5 separate regions of the Homo sapiens genome follow, and all the other regions are reported to be linked to region 3. The links are microRNA targets in miRTarBase. Many come from high-throughput screens and were not tested one by one. Region 3 holds a microRNA gene; each other region holds the end of a gene's coding sequence.
The links. Region 3 holds the annotated microRNA hsa-miR-320c (AAAAGCUGGGUUGAGAGGGU, at 1,253-1,272, opposite strand). A microRNA usually pairs through its seed, bases 2 to 8, with sites in the 3' UTR of a target mRNA and lowers its output. Matches are read on the target gene's strand: a 7mer-m8 pairs with bases 2 to 8, a 7mer-A1 pairs with bases 2 to 7 and ends in A, and an 8mer does both.

Region 1: miRTarBase lists SCRN1 as a target of hsa-miR-320c. The part of its 3' UTR that is shown has no 7-base or 8-base seed match.
Region 2: the mRNA of ARL3 is a reported target of hsa-miR-320c. Seed matches in the 3' UTR shown: 7mer-m8 at 2,289-2,295 and 8mer at 1,673-1,680.
Region 4: the mRNA of AIMP1 is a reported target of hsa-miR-320c. Seed matches in the 3' UTR shown: 7mer-m8 at 723-729.
Region 5: the mRNA of SMARCC1 is a reported target of hsa-miR-320c. Seed matches in the 3' UTR shown: 7mer-A1 at 1,749-1,755 and 7mer-m8 at 2,890-2,896.

What each region holds. Positions count from the first base shown.
Region 1 is chr7:29,920,968-29,924,150 of GRCh38, reverse strand. It overlaps SCRN1 (secernin 1), which reads left to right. Exons shown (of 8, transcript NM_014766.5): 8 at 36-3,183. The coding sequence ends at 194. Among named protein-coding and RNA genes, the nearest start is that of FKBP14-AS1, 66 kb to the left of the region's middle.
Region 2 is chr10:102,674,222-102,677,433 of GRCh38, forward strand. ARL3 (ARF like GTPase 3) reads right to left here. Exons shown (of 6, transcript NM_004311.4): 6 at 1-2,720. The coding sequence ends at 2,673. Among named protein-coding and RNA genes, the nearest start is that of TRIM8, 31 kb to the left of the region's middle. RefSeq lists an enhancer at 1-133.
Region 3 is chr18:24,319,988-24,322,987 of GRCh38, reverse strand. MIR320C2 (microRNA 320c-2) reads right to left here and starts at 1,313; the gene lies at 1,242-1,313. All of the region lies in intron 7 of OSBPL1A (oxysterol binding protein like 1A), which reads left to right.
Region 4 is chr4:106,347,232-106,350,432 of GRCh38, forward strand. It overlaps AIMP1 (aminoacyl tRNA synthetase complex interacting multifunctional protein 1), which reads left to right. Exons shown (of 7, transcript NM_001142416.2): 7 at 295-2,225. The coding sequence ends at 461. Among named protein-coding and RNA genes, the nearest start is that of GIMD1, 20 kb to the right of the region's middle.
Region 5 is chr3:47,585,410-47,588,409 of GRCh38, reverse strand. It overlaps SMARCC1 (SWI/SNF related BAF chromatin remodeling complex subunit C1), which reads left to right. Exons shown (of 28, transcript NM_003074.4): 28 at 104-3,000. The coding sequence ends at 201. Among named protein-coding and RNA genes, the nearest start is that of CSPG5, 8.0 kb to the right of the region's middle.

The sequences.
Region 1 (3,183 bases), not on the chromosome of region 3:
TTGCTGACACCTAAAGCAGTCGTGTCCTTCCTCAGGAGCAAGGTCGCAAGCTGAGGAGCACCATGCTGGAGCTGGAGAAGCAAGGCCTGGAAGCCATGGAAGAAATCCTGACCAGCTCCGAGCCACTGGACCCTGCGGAAGTGGGGGACCTTTTCTATGACTGTGTTGACACGGAGATTAAGTTCTTTAAGTGAAGTAAGCGTTCCCTTTCCCCTTCTTATTTAAGACTTCCCACCTTACTAAATTACCAGCAAAACAAACCACTCTCCTGTTTGAGTAAAATGAGAAAGTTAATATGTGGCCTCCTTTTCTGAAGCCAGATCAAACTGTTACCTTGTGTTCCACCTTGAATCTCACAGCGTCCCCTTCTGCAATGTAGGTCTCCTTCCTGTGCAGTGTAACATGTATCCCGTTGCCTGTTGTTCGGTTGTGTGACTAATTGTGGATTTTAAGCTGCTATTATTGTATTTCAGTGGCAATGGACACATTAGCCTTTTACAAGAGGACTAGAGTTCATCAAGCCTTGAAAGGCAGGCTTCACAGTGCCGAGTTGGCGGGAAAAGCAAATTCTTTTGAAGTCTTAGTCTTTCCCTCAGTAGCGGTTTCTTTCAGGTTAACAAGAGGCATTTGTGCACACACACAGGGCTCTTGTGTGTGTTGTCAAGGGGACCCTCCGTGGCCTCCCGTGAGTGCATGCCTGTAGTGCACAGTGTCTCTACAGGTGTCTTCTGGGGGGCAGAACCAATTGGAAGGAAGAAAGGGACCCCTCTCCAGTCCTGGCTCCTTCCTACATCCTGGGCTCCTGAAGAAGCTGTCTTCCCATTTTCCATGCGCTGTGCTTATGTGTGGTGGACTGCAGAGCTGCTTCCACTTACAGGAGAGCTGATAATTTGTTAGCTGGAACCTATTCACTTCCGAGATTCAGACATAGCCATGCTGGTGGCCTTCTGAATCACTGCATGGATGTCCCAGGAGGCAGCTCTCCCCACACAGCAGCACAGCCATCACAGGATTCCTTGTGTAGAAATGATTCCCAGTCTAGTTACCAACAGCTAGTCTAGGAGTAATTGAATGGCCCTATGGCACAGTTCCACCCACAGAGTAGTGAATCTCTCAGCCAAGGAGGGAAAGAAAAGGAAGAACTCTTGACTATTTAGATTCTAGTTAAATATCTGGAATCCTAGCAGTCACTACATTATCTCAGCAGAGAGACTTTAATTAAACTGATTTGTTTCCAATGTCGGGTTCACTTAAAGGATTTGACTTACCACCAGAGCATAGAAAAGCATGCAAGGAAGACCAGATGGGCTTAGCATTGGGAAGACAGAGGGCAAGGAGGTGATAGATGGATATAGAAGCATTTCTCTGCAGGATACCAGTTCAGGCCCCACCATTCCTGCCAAGGCCATTACATCCCACAAACCCAAATACAAAGCAGCTGACTTCCCTGGATCTTCCCCCCACTCCTCACACCTCACATGTCCCAGGAGCTGCCTTCATTCAGGCGGGTAGCTGCACTGGGCATGGGGTGGTGGTGGGAGCTTACCGCCACCTATTCAAGCTCTCAGCTACTCCTGAAACGGGCAGAGATGATGAACAGAAGTGTATGTAAATACAGCAGCTAGTGGGAGAGCACCAGTTGGGCCTAATCCTGCCTCATCATTCTTGGCAGGAATCTGCAAATGGAAACATTGTGAGTATCAGCAATCTGGGAAGTGACAGGGTTAATAACTCCTTCCCAGAAGCTGTATCATGAGATTTTGAGGGGACCGAGCCCTGTTACATGGATGTGAACAGTGAGGATCAGAGGTTTTATCAGAACACATTCTTTTTTTCTACCAACTCTCCAGAGCGTGAGTATAGGAGTGCCATGAGCTTTTTAGTCAGCAGTTTTGTAAACTCTGTATATAAAATCATTAACCACACATTGTGGGTGATGGGAAGACGATTTCAGCTGACAGAGTTAATGGCAACCAATAATGGTGGCCTGTAGCTGCTAAGAGCTTCACGCAGGTTTGGCCTGGGCTTTCACTGTTGGTGAATTTAGAGTGTCCTTTTAGGTGGGGCGGCTATTCTAAAAGTGTCTTTCTATCACTGTTAAGGGGGGGGGAAAGTGAGGTTCGAGGATGACGTAGGTAACTCTCCCCTCCCAAGTCCATGTTCCAAGTGGCTATGTAAAGCAAGATGATACAGAAAGCTGCTCTAAAATCTCACTGAGTGATTTCACCTTCGCCTACTATGAAATGTCTCATCAGACCTGACATGTCTGAGATAACCAAGGTGATTCAGGATTTGATCAAAAGAAGTCTAGTAAGAATTAATTACACAGAAGCCTCCTTTCATTTCTATGGGCCAAACAAAGGCCATGGATAACCCTACCCGCTTTATGTCATTACCCATTGGGAAACACAATGGCTACTTCTGTTAGGGTACATTGACCTTGGTCAAGCATCTTAAAGAAGGCAACCCTAATTGAGAGCTGTCTTGGCTAATACTCTGCACCACAATTGTGATGTCCTAGTCCTACCACTAGAGGGCATGGTACAGCCTGGCAAAAGTTAAAAGGGGTGTGGCAGCTCCCATCAGGTCTGGAGGTGGTCTATAAGCACAGTTGACAGTTGTGCATTGGGATGGGTGGAGAAAGACGACAAGAGAGCAGAGAATCTGCTGATGTGGCTGCGCTTACTTTTAGTGACTTTATGTACTTATATTAACAGCTGGAAATAGGTTGTTGGGTTTTGAGCAGGCTGTTATAGTGAGGAATGTTCATTTTTAAATGTTCCTAACAGATTTTGCTTTTGAAAAATGCTTGTTACATGAATAATTTGTGGACCAGGGATTGCTTTTCTGAAGGCAGTATAGGGAACATGAATATTCAAGATGAAATACAAAAATTATGTTTAAGGGTCATAGTGTATAAGTAGCTTCCTAGGAAACCCTTTGTGTATCTTTTCAGACTGGGGTGGGGGCTGAGCATGCTTGTGCAGAAAGAAGCCATAGCCAGAAAGGACAGAATCTCTCCCCCACTCCCTTGCCCCATAACCAAACATAAGCTAGCTAGTCTTGTCTAATAGATGGGATTTACTATAGGTGAAGATAGCCCTCATATTCAAGGACAGAAGCTCTGGCAGGAGTAAATTAGCAAAGCAGAAATAGTACCCTTTCATTCTTGGAGGTGCTTTG
Region 2 (3,212 bases), not on the chromosome of region 3:
ACCCTGGCACATTTCTAACCGCCGGCATAATCGCTGACTTTCAGCTGTGCACCGACATGTTCCCCAGCTCAGCCCACATCAATGACACCCTTGTTTCCATAGTAACCAAGGGAGAGTGAAGGGGAAAGGGTGTGTTGCACTGGGTGCAGGGAATCCAGCCAAAAGCAGCCACACGGGGTAGGTCGGGAGGAGGGGAGGACTCGAGTTTTTCCCACAACTGGCTTGAGCACATATCACGAGCACCCCCCAGGCCTTGCCTGCCCTCCGGCCCCCAGCCCTCTCCCCCGCACATTCAGATGCAATTGTGCGCAGGGCAAAAGTCTCGCTAAGACTCACTGGGGACAGGAGGAGGGGAAAAGGGGTCTTCCCTTTCCAGCTTCAAATTCTGTCTTCTGGTCAGGGGGCAGGAGTGGGCAGGGAAGAGGCAAGAGGGCTTTAAAAAGTATTTTGTTTTTAAATGGGAGCTTTCAAACTCTGCCTTTTTCAGGCTTCTCTCATCTACCCCAGAGCCCCAGGAGGGTTCAAAAGGGCTCAAAGGGAAGATGAAAGCGTGTGACATCTGCAGTGTCTCTGTGTCTCTGCAGCTGAGAGCAAATCAGAACATTTACAGAGGCCGTTATCAGAGGAGTGGCTTCTGCCTGCTAGGAGAGGCCTTGGGATGGCTCTTTAAAACAGTCCCCTAAGTTGGTGGTAAAAGAACAAAAATATTTTACAGACCCTCCAATGCCAAAGTTCCATACTGCAGTGTTCCAAAATTGCAGACCTCCAAGCAGGCATTTTGCCCCTCAGATAACTTGTCCCTGCTGAACTATTCGGAAGAAAAAACAATTTGCAAGTGCTAGAGCCACATTTGCAGCCTGGTAGAAGGGGGATTTCTGATTCCTTATAATTCTGTGTTGCCTCTGTAAGGGAGAGCTTGGGTGAGCCAGAGAAGCCAGTGGAGGAGGCTGCAGAGAGCAGCTAGCTCTGAGGTTAAAAAAACCCCTCACTTTCTTTTGTTTTGCAAGTCCTTACAGGTCTGTCCACAGCAACTCTGGGGCACCTTTTCACGGCTGGCTTTGTTAATGACTTTCATGTCAGATCGCTTTTGAAGCTGGCTATGCCTCAGTCTCTGCTGCACTCTTAGCCAGAAGCAGCTGGGTATTGAGGGCCAGGGGCTGCAGCGGCCCCTTCAGTCTGCTCACACGCCCTGATGGGCTTGGGAAGGGCCACCTCCCAGGATGAGAAGGCAGCTGGCCCCCAGGGACCCACCAGTCACTGGACAGTCTCTTATTCATTCTCTGAAAACCCCTGAGCTCAGGCACCAGAACAGAGTTTAATTCAGGAGCCGGGCAATGCTCTGGCCTGTTTCCCCATGTTTGAAGCTGAGGATTTCTGAGGTTCAGGGAAACAAGCTCGTTTTGCAACGAGGGGCAGGAGAAATGTTCTGCTATTCCTCTCCAATCAATCAACAGAGGACGGACATTCTGCTGCAGAGAGGCAGAGGAGCCCAGCAGCTGGGGTGACTCTTGATTCCTTGGACACGACCCCTGCAGTCACACACACACCCATGTCCTCCCCAGCAGCAAACCCTCTCCATCCAGGAGCATCCCACACCACCAAGTTGCCAGCACTGTAAAAATTGATCTAAAAATCGATCTGCCTGGCTTTTCTCAGTGGAGCAGGTTCATGGTAAAGCTGCATTTATTTCTAAAATCTGATAGCAGCGGCCTATTGTGATCGTTTAAACACAGAATTCTTTGAGCTTTAGAAATCCTGTCTATAGGACGGCCGTGGAGAAGCCAGCTAATCTCAGAGTCGGCTGCTCACTGCTCCACTGAGCTGGAGAAAGCCTGTTTACGCTAGCCTGAGCCCTCGATGTGAGAGCTTTTTAAGGACCTTGTAATTTTTCTGGAATTAAACCTCCCACCTCTCCTTACATTCCAGATGTCATTACAGTCAAAAGTCATAAGAATTTGCTTCTCTGTGTGGCTGGCTGGGGCAGAGGCAGGGGTGGGTGGGATGGGGTATGTTTCTGTAGTGACTTGTCTGCAAGAAAGACTTTTTTTTTTTTTTCTGTCCAAAGAGTGAGGATTACATACGTAGTCTCCGACCTGCAAGACGATGAGATGGTTTAATTATCTGCCTTTTCTCCCCCCACCCCCACCCAGCAGCTTCCTGTCGGACAGACTGAAGCCTGGCTGGGCTAGTGACGGTAAAAATCACTGACAGCACCAGCAAACACTGTCTGTGGTTTCAAAACCATGGAGGGAATGCAAGGGACGGGTCAGTAAATAAATGAACTCAGCAAAGCTGCTTCTTCCTCTTTTTCTTTTTCTTTTTTTTTTTTTGAGAGGAAAAAAAAGCCCACTGGAATTGTCTAAACTGCAATGCAATCTCTTGCTCATTTAAAAGATCTCATTTTCTAATCATGTGCTTTGAGACATTTAATACTATTTCAATTATGCAGAGGAAATAATATAATTCCTTTATTTGAAAAATGATACTGAACCTCAGAGATCAGTTAAATCTACTGCTGGAATGGGGATTCTTTCTAAACCGTGTTGTTCCCTCTCTTCAAACAGCTGGAGCTGTACACAGATGGAAAAACATTTGGTCAGAAAGCAGCAAATTAGTGTTTTTCAGGACCGAATTCGGCTCCCGCAGCTCCTGCATCTCCATTCGTCTAGATTTTATTTCTTCTTTGCATTGACATTTTTGCAGACCCAGTTCATGCCATCCTTTGAGGGAAATGGGCAGAGAAAGGCAGTGTTAGTTATAAGAAAAGCACCACACACTCTAGCCTGGAGGGGCGGGCAGTGGGGGTCCCAGGCCCTCCCTCCCAGACCGCCAGCTTTAGGGAGTTTGCTTGGCTCAGGGGCCCACCTGGGTGACCAGGGACAGTGACCTCCCAGGAGGAGGAGGAGGGAGGTCTCTGAGAGCACAAGAGGGCGATGGGAGGGGGATGCCCAGCGCCTGAACTTGAGATGGGTCCTCAGGAACTCCCTCTGAAAAAATAAACACATCTGCCTGCATCCAAAGCCTGACTGAAGAGCTATCAGGAAAGATTCCAGCCATTTTTGGCTTTTTCTAAAAGGTGACCTTTGCCAGGGCATTAAATTCAATAAGCCACCCTTTTGGTGCCCCATGTGTTTACAGTGTGACAGTGTACACTTGGGTTAAATTAAATTTCTTTTTGGAAAAACAAACCTACTGCAGTGAGTGTTGCGAGG
Region 3 (3,000 bases):
TTCCCATTAAGGGACAAATCTGTGTCATGCAAACTTTTAAATATTACATCATTCCTGTTTTTCACTTTATTTTGTTGTGGTTGGTAAGAGAGATAGTGTATTTTTTAACTGGTGGTGGAACCCATCTAGATTCCATCTAGGAGGCTATTTCATTTAGTTCAAAAGCATTTTATTGAATTCTTACTGTGTGCCAGGCATTTTAGACATCAAATCCAGAAATGAGGTCTCTCTTCTGGAATTTCATCTAGTTGGCAGGAGTTCAGAATTTATTTTTGGTATTAGGGCAGAATTCTATGAAAGAAATCATAGTGTTGTCTTTCTCTCTGCCTAAAGAAATAATTTCTCCAAAGTGCCCTGTAGGTAGAATGAAAATAACACAGAATTGGCAGACCTCTATAAGGCATTTTCCTATGTGCTAGGCAGAAAAACTAAACTGAGTATTAATTTTTTGGTTAATGTTTTAAAAAGTTTTTTCCCCACTAAAGAAGTAATGTATCACCAGCCCCAGGTTCCCCATCAGCAGCTCTATAAATCTTCCTCCAAAATAAATCTTAAAGCCACATACAAGGCCGGGCACGGTGGCTCACACCTGTAATCCCAACACTTTGGGAGGCCCAGGCGGGCAGATCACGAGGTCAGGAGATCGAGACCATCCTGGCTAACACAGTGAAACCCCATCTCTACTAAAAAAAAAAAAACAAATACAAAAAATTAGCCGGGCGTGATGGTGGGCGCCTGTAGTCCCAGCTACTCAGGAGGCTGAGGCAGGAGAATAGCATGAACCCGGGAGGCAGAGCTTGCAGTGAGCTGAGATGGTGCCACTGCACTCCAGCCTGGGCAACAGAGGGAAACTCTGTCTCAAAAAAAAAAAAAAAAAAAAAGTCACATATTTCTCTCTATGTTAAAAATGATCTCCATTTTACTACTGACTTTCTAGTCCAAACCACCAGTATCCTTTACCTGCACTATTGCCATCTCTTTGTAATTAGCCTCCCTGCATTTCTTTTGCCCACGTTTACAAGCCATATTGCACACAACAGCCAGAGTGACCTTTTTAAAAAAAATCATGGAAATTATCAAAGCTTCAGAAATCAAATAGCATAATTAATTGATGTACCCATCACCCTCCTCCAGAACTTAGCAATAATGGCCACTCTGTATCTCTTCCTACTCCCTGAATTCTTGTGAAACAATTCCAGATATCATGCCATCTCTTTTTCTTTTTAAAAAATTTATTTGTTTTTCTTTTCTTACCCTCTCAACCCAGCTTTTCCCAATTCTGGGAAGAACTGGAAAGAGAAGGCCTGTCATGCCATTTTATTCATACATACCCAGTGCTCCTCAACTTACTGTGGGGCCACGTCCTCATAGAACCATTGTAAATTGAAAATACACTTAAGGCCAGGTACAGTAGCTCACACCTGTAATCCCAGCACTCTGGGATGCTGAGGCTGGCAGATCGCTTGAGCCTAGGAATTTGAGACTAACCTGGTGAAACCCCATTCCTACAAAAAAATACAAAAATTAGCCAGGTGTGATGACACATGACTGCAGTTCCAGCTACCAGGGAGGCTGAGGTGAGAGGATCACTTGAGCCCAAGAGGTCGAGGCTGTGGTGAGCTGTGATAGTTGAAAAACCATTAAGTTGAACTGTTGTAAGTTGGGGAACATCTGTAGTCCAGTATATTAGTAAAAAATAAGGACACCCTTTAACAAAAACCACAAGCATGTGATAGTTGCACAACTCTGTGCACCTATAAAAACCATTGAATTTGTGCAGTTTAAGTGAGTAAATTGTATGTTAATTTGTATCTCAATGGGGCTATTAAAAAACATAAGCACAATAGCATTATCCTATTAATAATATTCTAGTAATTTATCAAAATCATGGAACTGCCAAAGTTTGTGTTTTCCCAGTTATTATTATTATTCTTTTCTTTTCTTTTTTTTTTTTTTTTTGAGACGAAGTCTTGCTCTTGTTCCCCAGGCTGGAGTGCAATGGCGCGATCTCAGCTCACTGCAACTCCGCCTCTCAGGTTCAAGTGATTCTCCTGCCTCAGTCTCCAGAGTAGCTGGGATTACAGGTGCCTGCCACCACACCCAGCTAATTTTTGTATTTTTAGTAGAGATGGGGGTTTCACCATGTTGGCCAGGCTGGTCTCGAACTCCTGACCTAAGGTGATCTGCCCACCTCGGCCTCCCAAAGTGCTGGGATTACAGGCATGCGTCACTGCACCCGGCCTATATTATAATTTTTTAACACTTTGACAGAGTTTTAAACATGAGTCAGATCATGTTACTCTTACTTAAAACCCTTCAGTGGCTTTTCATCCTATTTAGAATAAAACTCAAACTCCTTATGCTGGCTTACAAAAGTCTGGCCTACAAACCCCTTGTGTGATGTGGCCTCTGCGTGCCTCTCTGACTTTATCTCTTGCCTGCTGAATTGTTCCTACCTCAGAGCCTTTGCATCAGCTGTTCCTCTGCTAGAATGTCCTTCCCTGTATTTTCACAAGGCTGGATCCTTCTTTTCAACCTAGACATCCCTTCCTCAAAGAGGCCTTCCCTGATCAACCCCTCATCCTCCAATCTAAAGTGGTATCCCAGTTACTCTGTCAAATCATTTATTTAAAAAGTCTGGGCGTACCGTGGTTCATTGTCTGCTGTATCTTTAAGAATTAATTTATCATCTGTCTTTCCCACCTTCTATGCTTTCCCATCCCCCCAGTATTTTTTCTGTTATGTTCACTGCTGAATCCTCAGTGCCTAAAATAGTAATCGGTACATAACAGACCCTCATTAGGGGATATCATACAAAAAAATTGCCAACACATACCAGATGTTTGGTATTTATAAAAATATTATTATTTTAAACCACCCCCAGCCCCCCTTTTTGTTTTTAGAGACAGAGTCTCACTCTGTCACCCAGTCTGGAGTGCAGTGGTAGCTGGGACTGTAGGCACATGCCACCGTGCCTGGCTAATTAAATTTTTTTTTTTT
Region 4 (3,201 bases), not on the chromosome of region 3:
ATTTTATTATTTTGATAATTTGGATACAATTCATTAAGCTTTATTACTTATAAAATATAAGAGTAAAATATGATATCTTTAATATACATAAAGAAACAACAACGATTTTATTTTACCAATCAAGAATATAAACTGCTGACATAATAAAAATAAAGTAAATGTTAAAAGTTTGATTAGGTCCAAAAATCAGAAAATGTTGCCAAAACAATTCACTGGAAATCTCTGTGAATAGTCTCTTTAATATTTTTGTATATTAGCTGTGTAATTTTCTTGTGCTTTTTTTCTCCTACACAGGAGAGCCTGACAAGGAGCTGAATCCTAAGAAGAAGATTTGGGAGCAGATCCAGCCTGATCTTCACACTAATGATGAGTGTGTGGCTACATACAAAGGAGTTCCCTTTGAGGTGAAAGGGAAGGGAGTATGTAGGGCTCAAACCATGAGCAACAGTGGAATCAAATAAAATGCTTCCACTACCAAAAGACATTAGAGAAAACCTTAAAAGTAATAAAGAGAAATATATTTGTCACTTATACCTAAAATATGAGTGGCTCATTTTTGCATTACTCTCTTCTAGACTTGACTAGTCATTTACTTGGTATATATTGTTTTCATTGATTGGGGAAACACTAGATTTTTACCTCGGTTTTTGATCATTTATAATGGAGAGAGGAAGTTGCCTATGTTTTGTAATAATTTATTTTTTAGCAGGAATATTGATTAGCAGCTTTTTTTTCTTTATACACATAGATAACTAACTAGATTAATGTTTAGTTTCTTATTTGTAGGCACAGGATGCATGAAATTTCAAGCTCTGGGATTTTTTGTATATTGTGTATCTGTATCAAAAATATCCTCTCCTTTTCAAAAATGACAGGTTGGAAAATGTTTGTCAGACTTATTAACTGGTCATATTATAATAATACTGATAATGACCAACTGCTCATTCTGAAAGCCAAACATAAAAGCTAGGAGAAGTGGCATCTGAACATTTTTGCTTTGCTGCCAGAGTAACCCTGACTAATAATACAATAACAGCAATTTTTTTAAAAAACTGAGATTTCCTACTGGCTTGAAGTTTTTCTATTTAGCAAAATAATTAGTAATAAGTTTTGACTAGGTCTAAAGAATGAACACATTGTAAACAGTTGCCACAGTAGTTTCTAATAAATTGATCATAAAAGCAGCTATCCTTTTTTTTTTTAATTCTAGCTTCTTTTTAAAGATTATTTGGGTACCTAATAAAGGATAATTTATATCTTATTACAGACTGATATTTTGCTTTTTCATGTGTCATCATACTGTCAGTATATTAAAAGAAATTACAGCCTAAAACTTAACATATACCATACATATATATTAAGGTGTCAAATAGCTATTCTCACTCATCTTACAAATATTGTAAGAGCAATAAAAATTAATTGAGGAATTATAAGCCTACAGGTCATCAGCCTTGAGGTGATTACTGATGATTTGGGCTTACACACATGTCAGCAAGATAGGGAGTGTGGATAGGGGAGGGCTGGTAGCTAACAAGGGGCCTCACAGAGAAATATTAGTGACTTTAACCAGGTTTCAGAATCTGGGCCTTACCTTTACAGGTTCAACAAAAGAATGGCATCAATAGAGGCAGAAGTATAGACATTGTTTTAAAAATACACACATGCACACACACACAAAACATTTTAGCATTATAGCTGTCTGAATCCTTCAATAAGAAGGAGAGGCACACACAAATACACACACTCACACAAAACTCAACAACCATAAAACAACCCTGCATGTTATAAAAGGCAGAATTAAATTTTATTTATTTAAATCCATGGAACTCTGGTAGGCCAGGATATATTATAGTACCATTATCAATGTGATATTCTGAAAATATGAACTGAGCGTCATTAACAATTGTTGGTACCTAAACACAAAATGAATTTCAAAAGTTACTTTGTTCTCAAGATATGTCATTCTTTTGGGAATAAATACTTCTGGTGACAAAGTCTTTTGTGAGTTTTTTGCTCTAATTTTTCTCAATTATATTAAATTTCTTTAATATAATTTAAATAATATTTCAACTACCTAGGTAGTTGAAATTTTCCCAACTAAATGTTGAAATACTGTACCCCAGATCAAATTATCTAATGTTTTGTTAGTGAAACCTAAACTGATGATTAAATCGTTCATCAAACCTAGAGATAATAAAAACTATTGGTCTTTTGTTAAAAGCCCATAATGTAGCATCATCAGTAGCTCATTTGTGCTGAAATTTATGACGACTTACTACAAAAGAGTACATTCCAAAAATGTCACATTTGTCTTTCTCAAGTACTATATTATGCCTTACCAAATTATAACAAATGTCCATGCTTCCCTCCATAATTCCCACAGGTCTTTACCATGTAAAAATCCATGCTAAAGAGTGCTAAAGAGAGAAAGAAGTGGAGAATTAATCAGTGATTTTTCAAGTTGTATGAAAGCATTGACCAAGTTATCCATTCAGCCCTATTCAGTACTTGTTTTCACAGAAAACTTAATTCTGTTTTATTTGTATTGCTGGGATGGGAGAGCTCTTACGGAATCAACAAAGAAATAGCATTGTTGGCAAACTGGACATAACACTTCAGCATCTGATGTATTCTGGTTTTTAAGGATTTCAACGATAGGGGGTAGTGTTTGGTGGGAGGATCACTTTGAGCCCAGGAGAGCAAGGCTGCAGTGTGCTGTGATTGCACCACTGCACTCCAAACTAGGCTACAGAGTTGAGACCCTGTCTCAAAAAAAAAAAAAAAAAAAAAAAAAAAAAAAAAAAAAAAAAAAAATCTTAGTTGGGGAGCACCTCGCTGTTTCTTATAACTGGGCATTAAAATGGCCTGAGTATACCTCCTCAATTTTTCAGAGAAATGATACGTCCTTTTAAAATATAAAAGTATCAGAAGTATATAACATTAGCCATGTATTTCACCTACATAAATAGTGACACAAGTCCTGATTCTAAGTGCTATCCAGCAGTATGAAAATTACAACTTTATCACCAAGATGCAAAATAAAAAGAACTAGGAAGGGCAAATTAGTATGCTCAACAGGCAATAATGTTGCAAATTGCTGTCTCATGGAGAAAGCTCTACCCTCCAAAATTTTAGTTAAGGAATAATCATGCCTTCTCTAACAAATGTAAGGGTGATATATTAATAATACATGTCTACTGT
Region 5 (3,000 bases), not on the chromosome of region 3:
CCACTAAGGAAAGGACTTCTGTGTCTTTTTTTCACTGAATAGGCTCTTTCCTGAGTCTCTTGTATTTCCAGCAATAACGAGTTACTCTTGGATATGTTTGCAGATCCCCCTCCACCACAGCAGCAGCCACCGCCACCACCACCTGCAGATGGGGTCCCTCCGCCTCCTGCTCCTGGCCCGCCAGCCTCAGCTGCTCCTTAGCCTGGAAGATGCAGGGAACCTCCACGCCCACCACCATGAGCTGGAGTGGGGATGACAAGACTTGTGTTCCTCAACTTTCTTGGGTTTCTTTCAGGATTTTTCTTCTCACAGCTCCAAGCACGTGTCCCGTGCCTCCCCACTCCTCTTACCACCCCTCTCTCTGACACTTTTTGTGTTGGGTCCTCAGCCAACACTCAAGGGGAAACCTGTAGTGACAGTGTGCCCTGGTCATCCTTAAAATAACCTGCATCTCCCCTGTCCTGGTGTGGGAGTAAGCTGACAGTTTCTCTGCAGGTCCTGTCAACTTTAGCATGCTATGTCTTTACCATTTTTGCTCTCTTGCAGTTTTTTGCTTTGTCTTATGCTTCTATGGATAATGCTATATAATCATTATCTTTTTATCTTTCTGTTATTATTGTTTTAAAGGAGAGCATCCTAAGTTAATAGGAACCAAAAAATAATGATGGGCAGAAGGGGGGGAATAGCCACAGGGGACAAACCTTAAGGCATTATAAGTGACCTTATTTCTGCTTTTCTGAGCTAAGAATGGTGCTGATGGTAAAGTTTGAGACTTTTGCCACACACAAATTTGTGAAAATTAAACGAGATGTGGAAGGAGAACCTCAGTGATTTTATTCCCTAGTGAGGCCTCTGAGGGCCTCCACACTGCCTGGCAGAACATACCACTGAACTAGTATGTGCTAGAGGAGGGCACAAACATCCGCTCCTTCCCTAGGCCTGCTGGCTCTGGTTTTCTATGCAGATGATTCATTGGATTGGGGGTGAGTGTTTTGTTTTTCTGGGGGCAGTGTGAGCTTTGAGGGTTGGAATATTGGGAGGCATTCCTTAGTTTCCTCAACTAGCCTGGAAAGTTAGGAGTCTAGGGTAATTACCCCCAATGAGTCTAGCCTACTATTCACTGCTTTGTGTGCATTTTTTTCTCCCTCTTTAAAAAACCCTTTAAAAGAAAAAAAAAAGTAGATAGTGCTAAATATTTTAGCTCATGAAACTTGGTTAGGATGGCTGGGGGTACAAGTCCCCAAACTACCTCTTGTTACAGTAGCCAGGGAGTGGAATTTCGTCAACCGGTACTTTTAAGGTTAGGATGGGACGGGAAAAGTGAAGCAGGATATTAGCTCCTTATACCTTCTCCCTTCCATTTCTGAGATCTCACATTCCATCTATCACAGGGTTTTCAAAGAGATGCTGAGGGTAACAAGGAACTCACTTGGCAGTCAGAGCATCATGCTTTGAGGTTTGGGGTGCTCAGGCTGGGAGGGTAGAATGCCATTCCAGAGGACAAGCCACAAAAATGCCTTAATTTGAGCTCGTATTTACCCCTGCTGATAAGTGACTTGAGAGTTCCCGGTTTTTTCCTCTTGTCCTTCCCTCCCTTCTGTCCTTCCATGTGTGGGGAAAGGGTGTTTTTGGTAGAGCTTGGTTTCCAAAGCGCCTGGCTTTCTCACTTCACATTCTCAAGTGGCAGTTTCATTATTTAGAATGCAAGGTGGACATCTTTTGGATATCTTTTTCTATATATTTTCTAAAGCTTTACATATGAGAGGGTATAGGGAGGTGTTTATAAAACACTTGAGAACTTTTTTCCTTAATATCAGAAAGCAAAAAAATAAAACCACAATTGAGATTTGCCTTTCAAACCCTCAGGTTTGCCTCTAACCAGGTGTCCCTGGTCACCATCAGAGTACTGGAATACGGGAACCGAGGAGACCTTGGTCCTTTTGTTTTTGTTCTGGACTCTTGGGAGTGGAAATGAGAATGAGTTTATTCCTACTGGAGCTTAGTTCCAATGCATTTGGCTCCAGAAAGACCCCAGTGCCTTTTGACAATGGCCAGGGTTTTACCTACTTCCTGCCAGTCTTTCCCAAAGGAAACTCATTCCAAATACTTCTTTTTTCCCCTGGAGTCCGAGAAGGAAAATGGAATTCTGGTTCATACTGTGGTCCCTTGTAACCTCAGGTCTTTAATGTGATCACTTTCAAATTTAAAAGATCCAGGTGGAAATATTTTTACTATAGTAATAATTCTACAAAATACCTGAATTCTTAACACTGTTATATTTCAGTATAAGTGGTGGCTTTTTCTTTTCATGTCTTTGATCTGGTTTTATTCCTGTAATTCAGCCACCTGATTTTGTGAGGGGGGGGAATAATATGTGGTTTTTGTACAAACATGTTTCTCAGTGTGTTGTTATTTTGGAAAAAATGAGGGGAGGGAGTTTGGCAAGAATGGAGAAAATGAATGAAGAAGGCCTAATCTCTCTCTTTTTCAGTGAATAAATGGAACACCATTTCTGGATTCTAGTCCCATTCTCTGCATTCATACACCAGTTTCTTCATATATCCTATGAAGAACCTAAACATTTGGCCCCACCTGGTCTTGGTTTGATCAGCAGTTAAAATTCTGTGACTCGGGCTTCCTTCCCGACTGCCCACCTTCATGATGTGTAAGGAACATACATTTTGAGGGTACCTCACCCACTGTTCATTTGCATGGTCAAAGTGAAAATGAGTGGAAGTTCTCCAAAAATGATGGCCAACATCCTGGCACCTCCAGGTGTGAGAAATAGCTTTGCTTGGTGAATGGGATAATGTTTGTCAGGATGCAGTTTAGACAGTCCCAAGTTGGAGGCAGGCCTTGAGGGCAGAAGATTCTGTGAACCTTGGGGGACAGCTTTTGGGTACTCACAGATATAAACCCTGTGCAGAAAAAAAGAAGTGATTGTTTTCAGGATGCTTATAAATCGAGTGAAGCAAAAGAAGAGGATTCTGTGTCTGCCAT